Regions from separate parts of the Homo sapiens genome. Here region 2 is linked to region 1. A link means that fine-mapping ties the variant in region 1 to the expression of a gene that starts in the linked region. Tissue or cell type: whole blood. Region 1 holds a variant in brackets; the other region holds the start of a gene. All regions are shown on one strand. Distances are between the middles of the regions.

Region 1 (8,264 bases):
GCACCATTGAGGCTCTTACAGCTGAACACCAGATGCAAGGATTTTTTTAAAAGAAAATCGCAAGCCTCTCTTCTTTCTAGAAGCAGGGGTTTAGTGCTTAGTTAGTTAGAATACAGCTATTTCAGGAGACATTGCCAAAGCCTGAGAAAGGAGGTGTCAGAGAGCCATGTTATAACTGATATAAACCTAGCCCTGGGGCTAGTTTGGACAAACAGCCCATTGATTCTCTCTGGATCTGTTTGTCTGATCCAATGGAATATGGAGAGGGTGCTCTTTAAGTCATCCTGCAGTTTTAAATCAAGTATCTACTGTGCTGTGCTGGGGGGCCCATGGGACCTGCCGGTCTACGGAGCCCCTGCTTATTTTCTAACCCTGCTGTATCAGGCTAGATCAGTAATTCCCAACCATGTGGGCAGGCATGACACCTGAACCTCCTGCTCCCTGGACCCCTTATCTTCTGGGCAGGAGGCTCAGTCAATTCCTTTTTCTTAAGCTCAGATTCCTGCCATTAAAAAAAGTATAAGTAGGCTGGGTGGGTGGCTCACGCCCATAATCCCAGCATTTTGGGAGGCTGAGGTGGGGGATCACTTGAGCCCAGGAGTTTGACACCAGCCTGGGCAAAATGGTGAGACCCTGTCTCTACAAAAAAATACAAAAATTAGCTGGGTACAGTGGCACATGCCTGTAGTCTCAGCTATTTGGAAAGCTGAGGTGGGAGGTTGAGACCAGGAGATCAAGGCTACGGTGAGATGTGATTTAGCCACTGCACTCCAGGCTAGGTGACAGAGTAAGACTCTGTCTCAAAAAATATATATATATGTATAGAAATACAGTTTCATCTAATGCACTATTGATCAGTATGCATTTTGTATGTGTGTCATGATTAATATATCTGCTATGGCTTGAATGTCCCCTTCAAAATATATTGAAATTTAATTGCCATTGTGACCGTATTAAAAGGTGGGACCTTTAAAAGGTGATTAGGTCATGAGGGGTCTGCCCTCATAAATGGATTAATGCTGTTATCACAGGAGTGGGTTACTTGTCTCAGAAGTGTGCCCCGATAAAAGGATGAGTTTGGCCCAATTTCCTCTCTCTGTCTCATGTGCACATTTTCTTGCCATGTGATGACCTTCCACCATGTTATGAGGCAGCAAGAAGTTCCTCACCAGATGGCTGAGCAGATGCTGTTGCTATGCCTTTGAACTTCTCAGCCTCCAGAACCATGAACCAAATAAATCACCTTTCTTTATAAATTCCCTGATCTGTGATATTCTGTCAAAGCAGCAGAAAATGGAAGAGGACAATATCTAATTTCCTCCATTAGATGTTTAAGGTAGGCCAGGCACAGTGGCTCATGGCTGTAATCCCCACAGTTTGGGAGGCTGAGGCAGGCAGATCACCTGAGATCAGTAGTTCAAGACCAGCCTGGCTAACATGGCAAAACCCCATCTCTACTAAAAATACAACAATTAGCTGGGCGTGGTGACAGGCACCTGTAGTCTCAGCTACTCAGGAGGCTGAGGCAGAAGAATCACTTGAACCCGGGAGGTGGAGGTTGCAGTCAGCTAAGAACGCACCACTGCACTCCAGCCTGGGCAACAGAGTAAGACTCCATCTCAAAAAAAAAAAAGTATATTTAAAGTATGTGTTTGTATATATGTGGTGTGTATGTATATACATACATACATACACACACATGCATGCATGGTAAACAGAACAATGGCCCCCAAAGATGTGCACATCCTAATCCCTGGAATCTGTGACTATGTCACCCTACATGGAAAAAGGAAATTTGCAAATGTGATTAATTTAAGGATCCTGAGACAGAGAGATTATCCTGGAGTATCTGGGTAGGCCCAACATAATACAAGGCCCTTACAAGAGAGAAATGGGAGCAGACTGAGTCAGAAAAAGAAAAAATAGTGACTGAACTAGATGTTGGAAACTGTGCTTTGAAGATAGAGGAAGGGACCAGGAGCCAAGGAATGCAAGCAGCTTCTAGAAGCTGGAAAGAGCAAGGAAATGAATGCTGTCTTAAAGCCTCCAGAAGGGATGCAGCCCTGACAACACTTTGGCTTTAGATTCCTTTAGAGCTCCATAACTGTGGAAAATAAAGTTTTATTGTTTCAAGCCCTAAATTTGTGGCAATTTATTATAGCAGCTATAGGAAACTAATGCTACATATACATACACACATATGTAATATATATTCTAAGTTATAAAATTCAAAGATTTTGAAACTTACATATATTTGAACATGTTACATAAAGTGAAATAGCAAGAACTTACACTTAGAGTAGTGATAATGATGTAAGACTGTGGTTTCTGGAGCCAGCTCTGCCCCTTTCAGGTATGGTGACCTTGGCAAGTCACTTAATCTCTCTGTATCTCAGTTTCCTCATTTCTAAAATAGGGATATGATCTTACCTCATAGGGCTGAAGTGAGGATGAAATGAGGTAATATATCTAAAATACTTATAAGAGTGCCTGGCACTTAGTAAGTACCATATTATATATCCCAATTTTTCAGAGGAGAAAACGGAGGTTGACTTTCCCATGGCTATGCAGCTCTGAAGTGACACAGGGGGCATTGGAACCTAGCTGGTTCAGCTCCAGCAGGGCTCCCATACCATACTTCCTCATAATACAAAGGCAAAGTCTCCTTTCCTAGCCCTCAATTCCAATCCATGACCAAGCAATCCTATTAACTATTTGGTATTTACCCTTCCAGACACAAGTATACATGTGCATGTGCTCACACATACATGTGTGTGTAAAAAACATATAATAATTTTAAAAATAAAATAAATATAATTATGTCATTTTGAAGCTTACATAATATATCAGAAACACATTTTTTGTTAAATTTACTTTAGTTATATAGATGAATTTTTTTTAAAAGTTAGAATATTGTAGGTAAAGCTAAAGTCCCCTTTGACCACCACCTTTAATCCTGGTCTTCCCTATGCTTTGAGATAACTACTCTTTGAATATAGCGCATATCCTTCCAGACCTTACTTTGCACACATGCACCCATAATAAATGGATAGCATTGTTTATTTTTTATGTCTATGTTCTTACATACATTGTATCATACTATAAGAATTGTTCTAAAACTTGGCATTGTATTTCTGAGATCTAACTACACTTATGAACAGAGATTTGGTTTAGTCCTCTTAGTCACTGAATTGCATTCTGCCACATTATATTTTTCCATTCCATTATTGATGTCCCTTTAGGTCATTTTCAATTTCTTGCTATTTGAATGCTTCAGATAGCTTTCTTATCCAGTCTTCTTGGATGCATGTGAAAGTGGTTCCCTGGGTACGGATCTAGACTAGGAAATGCTGGGTCACAGGATAAGCACATTTGCAGGTTTAATAGATTCTGCCAAAGAACCTTCTGAAGTGATTGTCTTCATTTATATTTCTTCCAACAGTGTATAAGTGTATTTTTTCCTCTACAGTATCCTCAACACTTGATTCTGTCAGTGTTTTGGTTTTTGCAGATATGATGAATGAAAATAGGATCTTTTTGTTTTAGTTTGCTTTTGGAAAGTTTATCAATTAGACAGATGAGCAACTTTTCAAACTGCTTATGTGAATTTCCTCTTTTATGAGTGGCTTGTTCATATTCCTTCCCCAATTTTTACCACATTGTTTGTCTTTTTCTTATGATTTGTAGAAGTGCTTGTGGATATCTTTCTGTCTAGATACTATAGGTGTACTTGATTTTTAAAAAAATGGTTGCATCGTATTCAGCCATATATGTGAAACCCTGAGGTCAGATCTGGTCCTCCATCTGTTTCTGTAAAAAAAAAAAAA[T/A]TTTTTTGAGATGCAGTCATATGCATTTTTTTGTATGTTGTATGTGGCTGATTTAGTGCTACAACAGCAGAGCTGAGTAGCTACGACATAGACCATATGGCCCACAAAGCCTTAAAATATTTACTCTCTGGCTCTTTAGAGAAAAAGTTTGCCCTGATATGGATAAATCATAATTTCTTTAGCCATTCTTCTTTTGATGAATATGTAAGTTGTTTTCCGTTATCCAATATTATGAACAATTCTGTAATTAATATTATTGTACACACTTATAACTTTGTCTGTAGAAGTGAATGTTTCTGTAGGCTGGATTCCTGAAAGTGGACTTGCTGGCTTATCAGATTTCTGTATTTAGCGGAACTTGCTCATCAGTAATATTTGAATTGGAGGATATTTTTAAGAAGTGAGGTTATTTCCTAGGAATAGTGATAGCTTTCTATTATTTAGCACCTGCTAGGTACCAGACACTGTACTAGGTGTCTTATATACATTCCCTCATTTAATCTTTCCAATAAGCCAGAAATTGGTGTTAATAACAGCTTTTTATATAAGGAATTTGAGGTTCAGTGAAGTTAAATGGCTTGTCCAAAACAACAGAGCTGGTGCACAGGAGAGCCAGGATTTGAACCCATTTCTCTGACTTCGAAGCTCCTATATTTTCTACTACACAATGTTGTCTCTCAGTGAAAAACTAGGTGATGCAAACAATTGGCATTACATAGCTTTGTGAGTAGCAATTATGCATATTTGTCTCTGTTAAGTGAACAGGTAACAACATTCGTAATTAATGCAGTAAGTTTCTGTAGACAGATGGGTTAGATTAAAGTAATTTTATAGACTCTTTAAAACTGTTGGCTTTCTTAAGCTAAACATTTCTTTTGCAATCTTATTTATGTTTCTATAAATAAATGCACAGCTGTGATGTAGTAGAAAGAATACTGGATTTAGAAATCCAAATTTGGGAAAAAAAACCCAACATGGTTTCTGCCTTCTTGGAAGGTTGCTGTGTGACTGTGGGCAAGTTTCCTACCTTCTCTATGCTCTAGTTTGTTCACAAGAGTTGTGAGAAATCAGTGTGAATGACCATGAGGTACTTGACCCAGTGCCTGGTATGTAGTAAAGGTGCAATCCGTGATGGTCCTTGTTCCTGAGGATATTTCCAGAAAGAGTGTTCAATCTGATAAACGCTGGGTACATTTCAGTGAGCTTGCCTCATGGCTCAAGCTCTGCCTTGCTCTGAAGCCACACCTAATGCCACTCCCTTGGCCTGATAGTAACCAACAGATGCCAGAACCATCCATTGCCAAGAATGTACGTAATGCCTGTGGTATACAGAAATGAGAGGACAGGTTATGACATGTCTTGGCATTTAAATTTTGGTGTACTGGGGCAGTTCCAAGATGGCTGAATAGGAACAGCTCCAGTCTATAGCTCCCAGCGTGAGTGACGCAGAAGACGGATGATTTCTGCATTTCTAATTGAGGTACTGGGTTCATCTCACTGGGGCGTGCCGGACAGTGGGTGCAGGACAGTGGGTGCAGTGCATCAAGCATGAGCCGAAGCAGGGTGAGGCATTGCCTCACCCGGGAATCGCAAGGGGTCAGGGAATTCCCTTTCCTAGCCAAAGAAAGGGGTGACAGATGGCACCTGAAAATTGGGTCACTCCCACCCTAATACGAGCTTTTCCGATGGTCTTAGCAAATGGCACACCAGGAGATTATATCCCGTGCAAGGCTTGGAGGGTCCTACGCCCATGGAGCCTCGCTCATTGCTAGCACAGCAGTTTGAGATCAAACTGCAAGGCGGCAGCAAGGCTGGGGGAGGGGCGCCCACCATTGCTGAGGCTTGAGCAGGTAAACGAAGCGGCCGGGAAGCTCGAACTGGGTGGAGCCCACCCACTATAGCTCAAGGAGACCTGCCTGCCTCTATAGACTCCACCTTTGGGGGCAGGGCATAGCCAAACAAAGGGCAGCAGAAACCTCTGCAGACTTAAATGTCCTTGTCTGACAGCTTGGAAGACAGTAGTGGTTCTCCCAGCATGCAGCTTGAGATCTGAGAATGGACAGACTGCCTCCTCAAGTGGGTCCTGGACCACCGAGTAGCCTAACTGGGAGGCACCCCAAAGTAGGGGCAGACTGACACCTCACACAGCTGGGTACCCCTCTGAGACAAAACTTCCAGAGGAACGATCAGGCAGCAACATTTGCTGTTCACCAATATTCGCTGTTTTGCAGCCTCCGCTGCTGATACCCAGGCAAACAGGGTCTGGAGTGGACCTCCGGCAAACTCCAACAGACCTGCAGCTGAGGGTCCTGACTGTTAGAAGGAAAACTAACAAACAGAAAGGACATCCACACCAAAACCCCATCTGTACCTCACCATCATCAAAGATCAAAAGTAGATAAAACCACAAAGATGGGGTAAAAACAGAGCAGAAAAACTGAAAATTCTAAAAATCAGAGCACCTCTCCTCCTCCAAAGGAACGCAGCTCCTCACCAGCAATGGAACAAAGCTGGACAGAGAATGACTTTGACGAGTTGAGAGAAGAAGGCTTCAGATGATCAAACTTCTCCAAGCTAAAGGAGGAAGTTTGAACCCATGGTAAATAAGTTAAAAACCTTGAAAAAAGATTAGACGAATGGCTAACTAGAATAACTAGTGTAGAGAAGTCCTTAAAGGACCTGATGGAACTGAAAACCATGGCAGGAGAACTACATGACAAATGCACAAGCTTCAGTAGCCGATGTGATCATCTGGAAGAAAGGGTATCAGTGATGGAAAATCAAATGAATGAAGTGAAGTGAGAAGAGAAGTTTAGAGAAAAAAGAATAAAAAGAAACGAACAAAGCCTGCAAGAAGTATGGGACTATGTGAAAAGACCAAATCTATGTCTGATTGGTGTACCTGAAAGTGACGGGGAGAATGGAACCAAGTTGGAAAACACTCTGCAGGATATTATTAAGGAGAACTTCCCCAATCTAGCAAGACAGGCCAACATTCAAATTCAGGAAATACGAAGAACGCCACAAAGATACTCCTCAAGAAGAGCAGCTCCAAGACACACAATTGTCAGATTCACCAAAGTTGAAATGAAGGAAAAAATGTTAAGGGCAGCCAGAGAGAAAGGTCAGGTTATCCACAAAAGGAAGCCCATCAGACAAACAGCTGATCTCTCCGCAGAAACTCTACAAGCCAGAAGAGAGTGGGGGCCAATATTCAACATTCTTAAAGAAAAGAATTTTCAACCCAGAATTTCATATCCAGCCAAACTAACCTTCATAAGTGAAGGAGAAATAAAATACTTTACAGACAAGCAAATACGGAGAGACTGTGTCACCACCAGGTCTGCCCTACAAGAGCTCCTGAAGGAAGCACTAAACATGGAAAGGAACAACTGGTACCAGCCACTGCAAAAACATTCCAAATTGTAAAGACCATCGAGGCTAGGAAGAAACTGCATCAACTAATGAGCAAAATAACCAGCTAACATCATAATGACAGGATCAAACTGACACATAACAATATTAAACTTAAATGTAAATGGGCTAAATTCCCCAATTAAAAGACACAGACTGGCAAATTGGATAAAGAGTCAAGACCCATCAGTGTGCTGTATTCAGGAAACCCATCTCACATGCAGAGACACACATAGGCTCAAAATAAAGGGATGGAGGAAGATCTACCAAGCAAATGGAAAACAAAAAAAGGCAGGGGTTGCAATCCTAGTCTCTGATAAAACTGACTTTAAGACAAAAAAGATCAAAAGAGACAAGGCCATTACATAATGATAAAGAGATCAATTCAACAATAAGAGCTAACTATCCTAAATATATATGCACCCAATACAGGAGCACCCAGATTCATAAAGCAAGTCCTTAGAGACATACAAAGAGACTTAGACTCCCACACAATAATAATGGGAGACTTTAACACCCCACTGTCAACATTAGACAGATCAATGAGACAGAAAGTTAACAAGGATATCGAGGAATTGAACTCAGCTCTGCACCAAGTGGACTTAATAGACATCTACAGAACTCTCCACCCCAAATCAACAGAATATACATTCTTCTCAGCACCACACTGCACTTATTCCAAAATTGACCACATAGTTGGAAGTAAAGCACTCCTCAGTAAATGTAAAAGAACAGAAATTATAACAAACTGTCTCTCAGACCACAGTGCAATCAAACTAGAACTCAGGATTAAGAAACTCACTCAAAACCGATCAACTACATGGAAACTGAACAACCTGCTCCTGAATGACTACTGGGTACATAACGAAATGAAGGCAGAAATAAAGATGTTCTTTGAAACCAACGAGAACAAAGACACAACATACCAGAATCTCTGGGACATATTTAAAGCAGTGTGTAGAGGGAAATTTATAGCACTAAATGCCTACAAGAGAAAGCAGGAAAGATCTAAAATTGACACCC
Region 2 (8,264 bases), 290 kb before region 1:
TTTATTTTTGTACCAGTACCATGCTGTTTTGGTTACCATAGGCTTGTAGTATTGTTTGAAGTCAGATAATGTGATACCTCTACTCCAGCCTGGTGTGGATACCCCTCCTCACCTCACAGTAAAGGGGGCCACTGCTGGGCCTTGGGGAGGTCAGCATTTTGCCAAGAACAGATATAAGAAAAAAGTCTACTTGACTACAAGAGGTTTTTTTGAGTTGTTTTTGTTTTGTTTTGTTTGGAGGATGGGATGGTGCCTTCTGCTTTTATTTACCAATTTATTCACAAAATATTTTAAATATACCAAAAATAATAAAAAGAACCAGCCACACCCATATATCCTGATGTAAGTAATCATCATGGTTGATTAAACAGATGCGAATATTTGGACACTTCTGTTTCAGAATTCCTCCATGCTGGTACACTCCCTTTCTTGAAGAAATAAAATGTTATCAATACAACTGAAGACATCCTCCATCCCTTCCTTGCCTCCCACCTCAGAGGCAGCCTGCACATTTCTATATTTTTATTATATGTGAGAATCCATAAACAATGAATGCTATTGTTCTGTTTTTCTAAGATATGCACAAATCGTATCCCATATATGTCTTTTCGCAAATTGCCTTTTCCACCTCATATTATATTTTTGAGAGTTGGTGATGTTGCTGCCTATAAATATTGTTCATTATTCTACCTGCTGTACAGTATTCTATTATTGTAGAAGCCCCGGTCTATCCATTCTCCTGCTGGAAAACACCAGCAAGTAGTTTCCACATTTTTTGCCATTATAGATACTGCCTCAGTAAACATCTTTATACATGTCTTCTTTTGCACATGGTCATGAGTTTCTGGAGGGTGGACAGCTAATTGTGAAATTGCTGTGTGGCCACTTTCTAGGCAATTTTCAGCCAGTTATATCCGCTTTGCTGCCATTTCCTCAACCATGAAATGGGTCCCCAGTTTATGACTTGGGAGCTCCCTCATAGAGAAAATGTGAGAACCTAAAATTTTAAATAATAATTCCAGAATGTGTTTCCAATGACTTAAAAGAAAAAATCAACTGTTCCCAGTGGATACAGAGCTTAGCCAGTGACACAATGGGAATTGTGGAAATGTAGAATGTTCTCTACTCTACCTATGATTGTCCTGGATGGCTCTGCACTCTCTGCCTGCTCTGTGCCCCTCACCTCACAATGGCCATCCAGACTGGCCCTTTCTCCAACAAGTCCCCGACCCCACTGGGCTCCCCAGTCTGAGTTCTTTGGAGCTGACACTCCTTGTCCAGATCTGGTTTGGGCTCATCTCTACAGCTGGCCCCAGGGCTTTTCCTTCGAGCCCATGAATGTCTCAGGCTGGTGCGCGGACTGGCATGGAGCTGGGCAGGAAGACCACTTATATTTGAGACCTGTAGATTTTCTTACCGTTTCTTCTCTCTCCCTTTCTTTCTTTCTTTCTTTCTTTCTTTCTTTCTTTCTTTCTTTCTTTCTTTCTTTCTTTCTTTCTTTTCTTTCTTTCTCTCTTTCTCTTTCTCTCTTTCTTTCCTTCTTTTCTTTCCTTTCTTTTTTTCGTTTGTAGTTTAACCTAATAATTGAACTACTGATAAATTATTACATTTGGGAATACAAAATGTAGACTCCACACAAGAAAACAAGCGTCCCTTTGCCTGACACTTGGGGCAGTTCGATATAGAGAGATTTTTAGGTTGACTCTGAAAGTCAAGACCTCCAGACCGCATGGTAGAAGGTGTAAGGCAGAAGACAATCTCAGCTGGGGAAATTCCTGGTCTTTAAGCCAGCAACATGAAGGACTGGAAGAGCATGATGTGCTCTGTAAACCCGCAGCACTGCATTTCCTAGCTCGGCCCCACAATATGCCCCCACAGCACCCTCCAGTTCGGCATTAGTTTCTTCCTAATGTCCACTCTGCCCGAAGTGACAAGCGGGGGCATGTGGAGACTCAGCTCCAGGTTCCTGGACGGGCTCAGCCACCCCCAGAAAGCTAATGAATGCTCAACCAGGGCTTCCAGATGCCCAGGGGACAGAGCAGGAGATGCCGGGGAATGGGGCTTTCCTTGCAGTTCAGGAGGGCCCTGCCCCAGGCCCAGAAGTAGAAGGGAAAGCGGCTGTTTTGGCGGTAAACAGTAATGTGGGGAGTGCTGCAGAGAAAGGCAGTCTTGGGGTTTCAAGCTGGAGAGCAGTCAGCTACACTCAGGACCTCTGGCCATCCCTGCCTTCACCTGCTGTTTGGCCTGATCGTCTAACTTCTCTGATTCTCCACTACCCACTCCTTATTACGTTTTTGAGACTTGTCAAAGTTTTATATTAGGGCTAACTGGGACGCATACAAATCTGGTAACTTCGCCAGGGCGGGAAGTTAGGAAGGAGCAGAGCTGGCTGCAGGTGTCTGGTCCTGACCACTCCTCTATGCCACCCTTGAGGAGCTTGCTGACTTTCTCATGACGTTCTCCCATTCCAGGAGCTGCAAGTGCGTTATCCTGGCTGGAGCACGGTGTCAATCACGGCAGACTAAGGCCAGCGGTGATGGCTTGAATGCCAGGCTGGGGGCTGGGATTTTTCCTGAGGATTTCACAGGACAGAGGTTGGCTTGGAAAGACCAAGGTGGGACTGAGGAACATTCCCCCTACCCCCAACCTCGGTGGGCTGTTGCAAGCCTGGAGGCCAGAGAAGACGGGCCTGGGATGCCGCGGGCGCAGGGGCAGGCAGTGAAGGAGATGGCTGCCTTCGGTAGAGCTGGTCGCTGAGGCAGAAGAGGAGGGCGTGGGGCGTGGGGCGTGAGGTGGCCGGCGCCCCGGCTGGCCAATGGCCGGGCTGCGGCCCCTCCGCGGGGCGGGGTGGGCCTGGTGGGCGGGCGGGGCTCGGGGCGGGGGCGGAGAGGGAGCCTGGTGGGCGGGCGGGGCGCGTCTTGCGGGCTCCCTCGGGTACCGGCGCTGCCGCACCCCGCCGCGCTCCCGCACCCGCGGCCCGCCCACCGCGCCGCTCCCGCATCTGCACCCGCAGCCCGGCGGCCTCCCGGCGGGAGCGAGCAGATCCAGTCCGGCCCGCAGCGCAACTCGGTCCAGTCGGGGTGGGTGAGGGGCGGCGGCGGGGGAGGGGACGACTCTGCTGAGCTCAGCCTCTCTTGGTGGATGTGGGGCGGGGCGCTCGAGTAGGACCCGACGCCAAGGGGAGGGGGCTGACCTGTGCTTGGTCCACCCCAGGTAGGGGCTGAGAGAGGCTTGAGGTGGAAGTGGGGGTCGGGCACTCTGACCTGGTCGAGGAGGGGCTAGGGTTTGAACCGGGGACAGAGTCTAGGTGAGCTGGGGCTTGGGAGCTATTAGCGTAGAGGATCCGGGTTCGGTTGCTCTGGCGAGGGCTCCAGCATCACAGGTGAGGAGCAGAGCTCAGCTTGTGCTCGAGGATGGGGGTGCGGGGTCCTGGGGCGATCGGGGCTCGGGCTGGAGCGGGTGGGGTCGCGTCTTTTCGGGTGTAGGGGAGCTGCGTTTTCAGGGGCCTCGGTTTCCTCCCGTCTCCGGGCGGGTGCGGGAAAGAGGGGCGCCAGGGGCGGGCGGCGGGGCGGAACGGGGCGGGGCGGCGGGCCCAGCGAGGGGGGTGGTCCGCGCGCCTCTGATCGCGTTCCGGGACACACAGGCGGCGGCTGCGGGCGCAGAGCGGAGATGCAGCGGCTTGGGGCCACCCTGCTGTGCCTGCTGCTGGCGGCGGCGGTCCCCACGGCCCCCGCGCCCGCTCCGACGGCGACCTCGGCTCCAGTCAAGCCCGGCCCGGCTCTCAGCTACCCGCAGGAGGAGGCCACCCTCAATGAGATGTTCCGCGAGGTTGAGGAACTGATGGAGGACACGCAGCACAAATTGCGCAGCGCGGTGGAAGAGGTGGGTGCGCCCTGGCGGCGCGGGGCTCTGAGAAGCGCCAGACTGGGGGCAGCGAAGTCTGGGAAGGCATGGAAGAGCGCTGGCCAGGGACCTCGGGTCCCGCGCAGGGCCTGGGAAGGGCCGACAGCAGATGCGGAGTGACCTGGAGGCAGCGCACGGTGATCCCTACTCCCGCCTCGTTTTGCCTCCTTGCCAAAAAGTCTGGATCTGAGCCTGTCCACCGAGAGGCTCTGCACTGGACCCTCCCTAGGTAGCTGGGGCCACCACCTGCCTGCAGTTGGCGTCAGGCATGCCGTTGGCCTTCCCTATTGTCAGCAGAGGTTTGCAGGGCCCCTGGTATTCCAGCACTGTGGTTTCACAGAAACCCGGGACAAGCTCCAGGCATCGCCAAGTTCTAGCTTGTCCGTTATGCTTTGAGCTTGTTAGGATGCCATGCAGGGACAAAGAGGCAAAGAGCCCTGAGCTTTGCTGGCAGTCTGTCTGGGCTGTCTTGCTTCTCACGCAATGTGGGGGCAGAGAGGGAAGATGGAAATCCTAAATCTCAGCACTGTATGAGTGGCGGATGAGGATGTGAGAGGCAATACCCCCTCCACCCAACGGTGCTTCGCAGTTGTCCTGGGCTCAGGTCCTCCTCTGCCACTCAGTAGCAGGGTGACATTGGGCAAATCACTTAATATCCTGCACCTCAGTTTCCTGTGAAAACTAAATGTCATATGTGTGGGCACCTGGCAAATAATAGGTGCGCAGTATTTAGCAACTATTATCAGATACCACGTACCTTAGCAAAGCTTTGCCTAGCTTCTGCCCTCCATCACCTCCAGGTCTAAACACTGTGGGTGGCATCTTGTTCTGTCCTCTGTGATGGTCACCCACGCATGCCCAGGGCTACCTGGGCAGGAGATGTCACTGGCCCAGCCCTCTCTGTCCAGGTGCGGGGAGCTGTCCCTGGTGCCTGGGGTGGGTAGACGAGGGCGCTGTTGGGCCCAATCTGTCTGTAGCCTGTGTCTATAGAGAGGAGCCAGCCGTCCTAGTGAAGGAGGCAGCAGGAAACCAATGTCCAGGCTGGTTGGCCCCTGGTCTGGCTTCACATCCCTGCTGTCTCCAGCTTGGTATCCCCCTTGGGCAAAGCCTTAACTGCTGGCCCTTGTCTCCAGGGGGAAGTTGCTTTCTCCCCGCAGCCCTTTGTAGTTTGGGGCTATTTCCCCTCCCACTCCACAACAGTTAGCCTGTGGAGTTTGCAGTGAAGGGGACACTGGCTTGGGAGGCAGTGAAATGGGCAGCTGTCCTTGAATATCCACTGGACAGGCCCAGATCCCAAGACCCATGATCTTTCTGTTTCCTGTGATTGCAAAACAATCATGACATGGAGCAATTAAAGGGTGAAGGGATTCAGATAGGCCCCAATGTCTCTTAACTCTGAAGCTTCAAATTAAGTGGAGTTTGCGATGCCTCTGGTTCTAGGGCAGGCCATCTGCTTTCCTTATCCAGGTTCTAGGACTTTCCCTCCTGCACACAGATTCCCGGTAAGACTGACTAAGTCACCTCTATGTTTTTGTGCCCACCACTGTTCAGAAAGTCTGCAGCGTGGTCCTCTGACGTTAGCTTCTGCTGAGGGAGGAGAGAGAGCAGCAAGGGCCTCTTCAGTCTCTTCTTGAGCAGAGCAGTGTGGGGCCCTGCAGGACCTAGTGACGGGGTCTTCTCCATGGGCGTTATCCAGACTGGATTTTGCCAAGACCCCAGCTTTCCTCCCTCTAGATGTGGCTCTGTGTAGGTTGGGGGGTTGAAGTTTGCCACCAGAGGAGATGTGGGCTGTCACTTCTACCCCACTCTTTCCCAGAGGTGTCCTCGCTGGCAGTGGGTACAGGATGAGAGAGGTTGAACACCATGGCAGGAGAAGAGGCAGTGGGGACTGATCTTCCCTCATCCAGTCCCTGCTCTGCCACTTACTGGCAGTGGCGTTCCGAGTCTGAAGTGGAGAAATGTCCACCTCTTAGGGTAAGGTGAGAATTAAATGAGATGCTGCAAGTAAAGCAAATCAGTGAGTTGGGCAGCTATCCCTGAATATCCACTGGTCAGGTCAAGAGCCCAAGATCCATGATCTTTGTTTCCTGTGATTGTGAAACTATCATGACATGGAACAATTAAAGGGTGAAGGGAGTCATATAGGCCCCAATGTCTCTTAATTCTGCAGCTTCACATTAAATTGAGCTTGTGATGCCTGTGGTTCTAGGGCAGGCCATCCGCTGACTGCCTAAAATGGGGTTAAGTAAAACACGTGTAATACAGGTAGCTTCATTGTGAGGTGGCTGTAAGGATGACATGATGGTTGGTTGTAAATAAGTAACAGGTATCATTATCATCATATTACTAGTAGCAGTATGAATGATAACAAAACACCACCAGTGTCTGATAGATTCTCAATAGAATCTATCTTTTAAAATATCTTAAACCATTAAAAATTAATCTTAAAATACTAAAAGTATCTTTTAGATATCTTCAAAAATAGAATACAATAGATTGTTTATAGACTGTGGTTATTAGTATTAACTTTTTATGGAGACTGCCAGAATGCCCCTTAAATCTCATAGACACAGGATAATTGGTATTTAGTCATTGTTCAGGGGAAAAATCAAAAAGGACCTGGGCCAGATGCATTATTTGTTTACATAGTTGCATCATGAATCTCCTTTCAAGTAACTTCCTGGCATTTTCAATGTTCCAGCTGAATCAAGCTGTTGAAGTTTCTTAAGGGGAAGGACAAAGCAGCTCTACTTGTACGGTCATTATTGGAAGAAGCATATCTTCAAATGGCTTCAATCTGGGATATTCCTACTTTCCTGTGTTACTATTCTATATGCTACCAATCAATGTATTCTGAAGATATAACCACTCTGTTTCTCTTCCCCTCATGGCCAGCTCTGTAACTCACTCATTTTAGAATGTTCTTACTGCCTCACCTATTTCTAGTATAAGTGCCATTTTTAATAGCATTCACATTCCTCCTCTACGAAACAGCTCCTTTTGCTTCAGACTTAAGTTTCTCTTGCTAGTGGCAATAATAGTTGCGGTTGAAATTTCCATTGTAAACTATACTTTTAGTTCATGGTGCCATTTAAGAACCGTTAGCTCATTCTGTTGAAATAACCAGTGGCTGAGCTGGGGGGAAAAGTTTTATAAAAAGACTATCTGCTCAGCCCAGAGCAAATTCTAGGTTTGGCAACTTGTCAATTATTTGAAAGCCAAACTGATCCCGATGGGAATTTTAAAAACACTAAAACATTCTCTTCTTCTGGGTGGGTCCTCTCCAGCACCTTCAGTCTTCTCTTCCCAGCTGCGTTTTTTTCTATCACTAACCAGAGTGGTAACTGAGGGCAAGGTCTCTTGCTTTTAAGGAAAGTCATTTTCTTGCCCATTCTGTCTTCTATCTCAGCCCCATTTCTTCTCCCCTTTGTTGGCAAGCTCTTCAAACACATGATATCAACGTTTGCTCTTCCTGCTTCTAGCTACCCATTCCCTTCAGAACTCTGGCAAAACAAACTGGCTTCTTTTGAAACTGCCTTCTTAAAGGGCAACGGGATAAAAACAGCTGTGTATTTCATCTTTGCTGTGTGGCAGATAGTGTATTTCATGCCTTAATTCTTATATCTACTGCATGGTCCTTAATTCTTATATCTACTCAACAAAGTAGGACATCCCTATTTTACAAATGAGCAAGCTGAGGTTTAGTGGGATTTGGTATCTTGCCTAAAGTCATACAGCTACTTTGTGGCAGAGCCAGGACTTGAACCCACCTTGTCTGACTCCAGAATCCTGGTACTTTCCACTGTGTTCCTCTCCGAGGATGCTGCAGGCAATGACTTGACTCATCCAGTGGCCATCTCTCAGTGGCTTGATCCTTCTAGACTTACTTAGAGTCTTTCCCACCTAGAAGGTCCCTACCCAGAAGTAGCTCCCATCTCCTAGACCTAATTCTAGCCAGTTTCCTGACTCCCCTCTCTTTCTGATCTACTCTTTATATTATTTCCCGCTAGCCTTCTGGAACTTGCTGTAGTTCCCTATTGCCTGGAACGGAGATTCTTAACTGGGGATCAGAGGGAGGGGAGGGAAATCCTCAGAATAAGCTGAGAAGCTCAGTATTATCAGGGTCTCATCTCTAGAAATCCCAATTCAGCGGGTCCATGAAGGGATCCAGATATTTCAATTTTTTAAACTTTTGGACCTGACTCTATAATCACAGCTTCCCCATAAGGTTGCTGTCAATATTCAAGGCATCTGGTGCAACGATTCAGACATAGTCAATGCCCCAAACGTGGGGGCTATTCTTAGAATTATTATTGTTATGAAGCCAGTGATCAAGTTTCAAACATCTCAGCAGCCATCTC

The links. PIP is the estimated chance that this variant, and not a neighbour inherited with it, causes the effect.
Region 2: DKK3 starts here. The variant in region 1 is fine-mapped to the expression of DKK3 in whole blood (TOPMed, PIP above 0.99).

The regions. Positions count from the first base shown.
Region 1 is chr11:11,714,387-11,722,650 of GRCh38, reverse strand. No RefSeq gene overlaps it. Among named protein-coding and RNA genes, the nearest start is that of MIR4299, 62 kb to the right of the region's middle. RefSeq lists an enhancer at 4,669-5,868. The variant T/A (reference allele first, on the strand shown) is at 3,828.
Region 2 is chr11:12,003,988-12,012,251 of GRCh38, reverse strand. DKK3 (dickkopf Wnt signaling pathway inhibitor 3) reads left to right here and starts at 3,626. Exons shown (of 7, transcript NM_001018057.2): 1 at 3,626-3,882. The coding sequence starts at 3,670. RefSeq lists an enhancer at 4,439-5,374.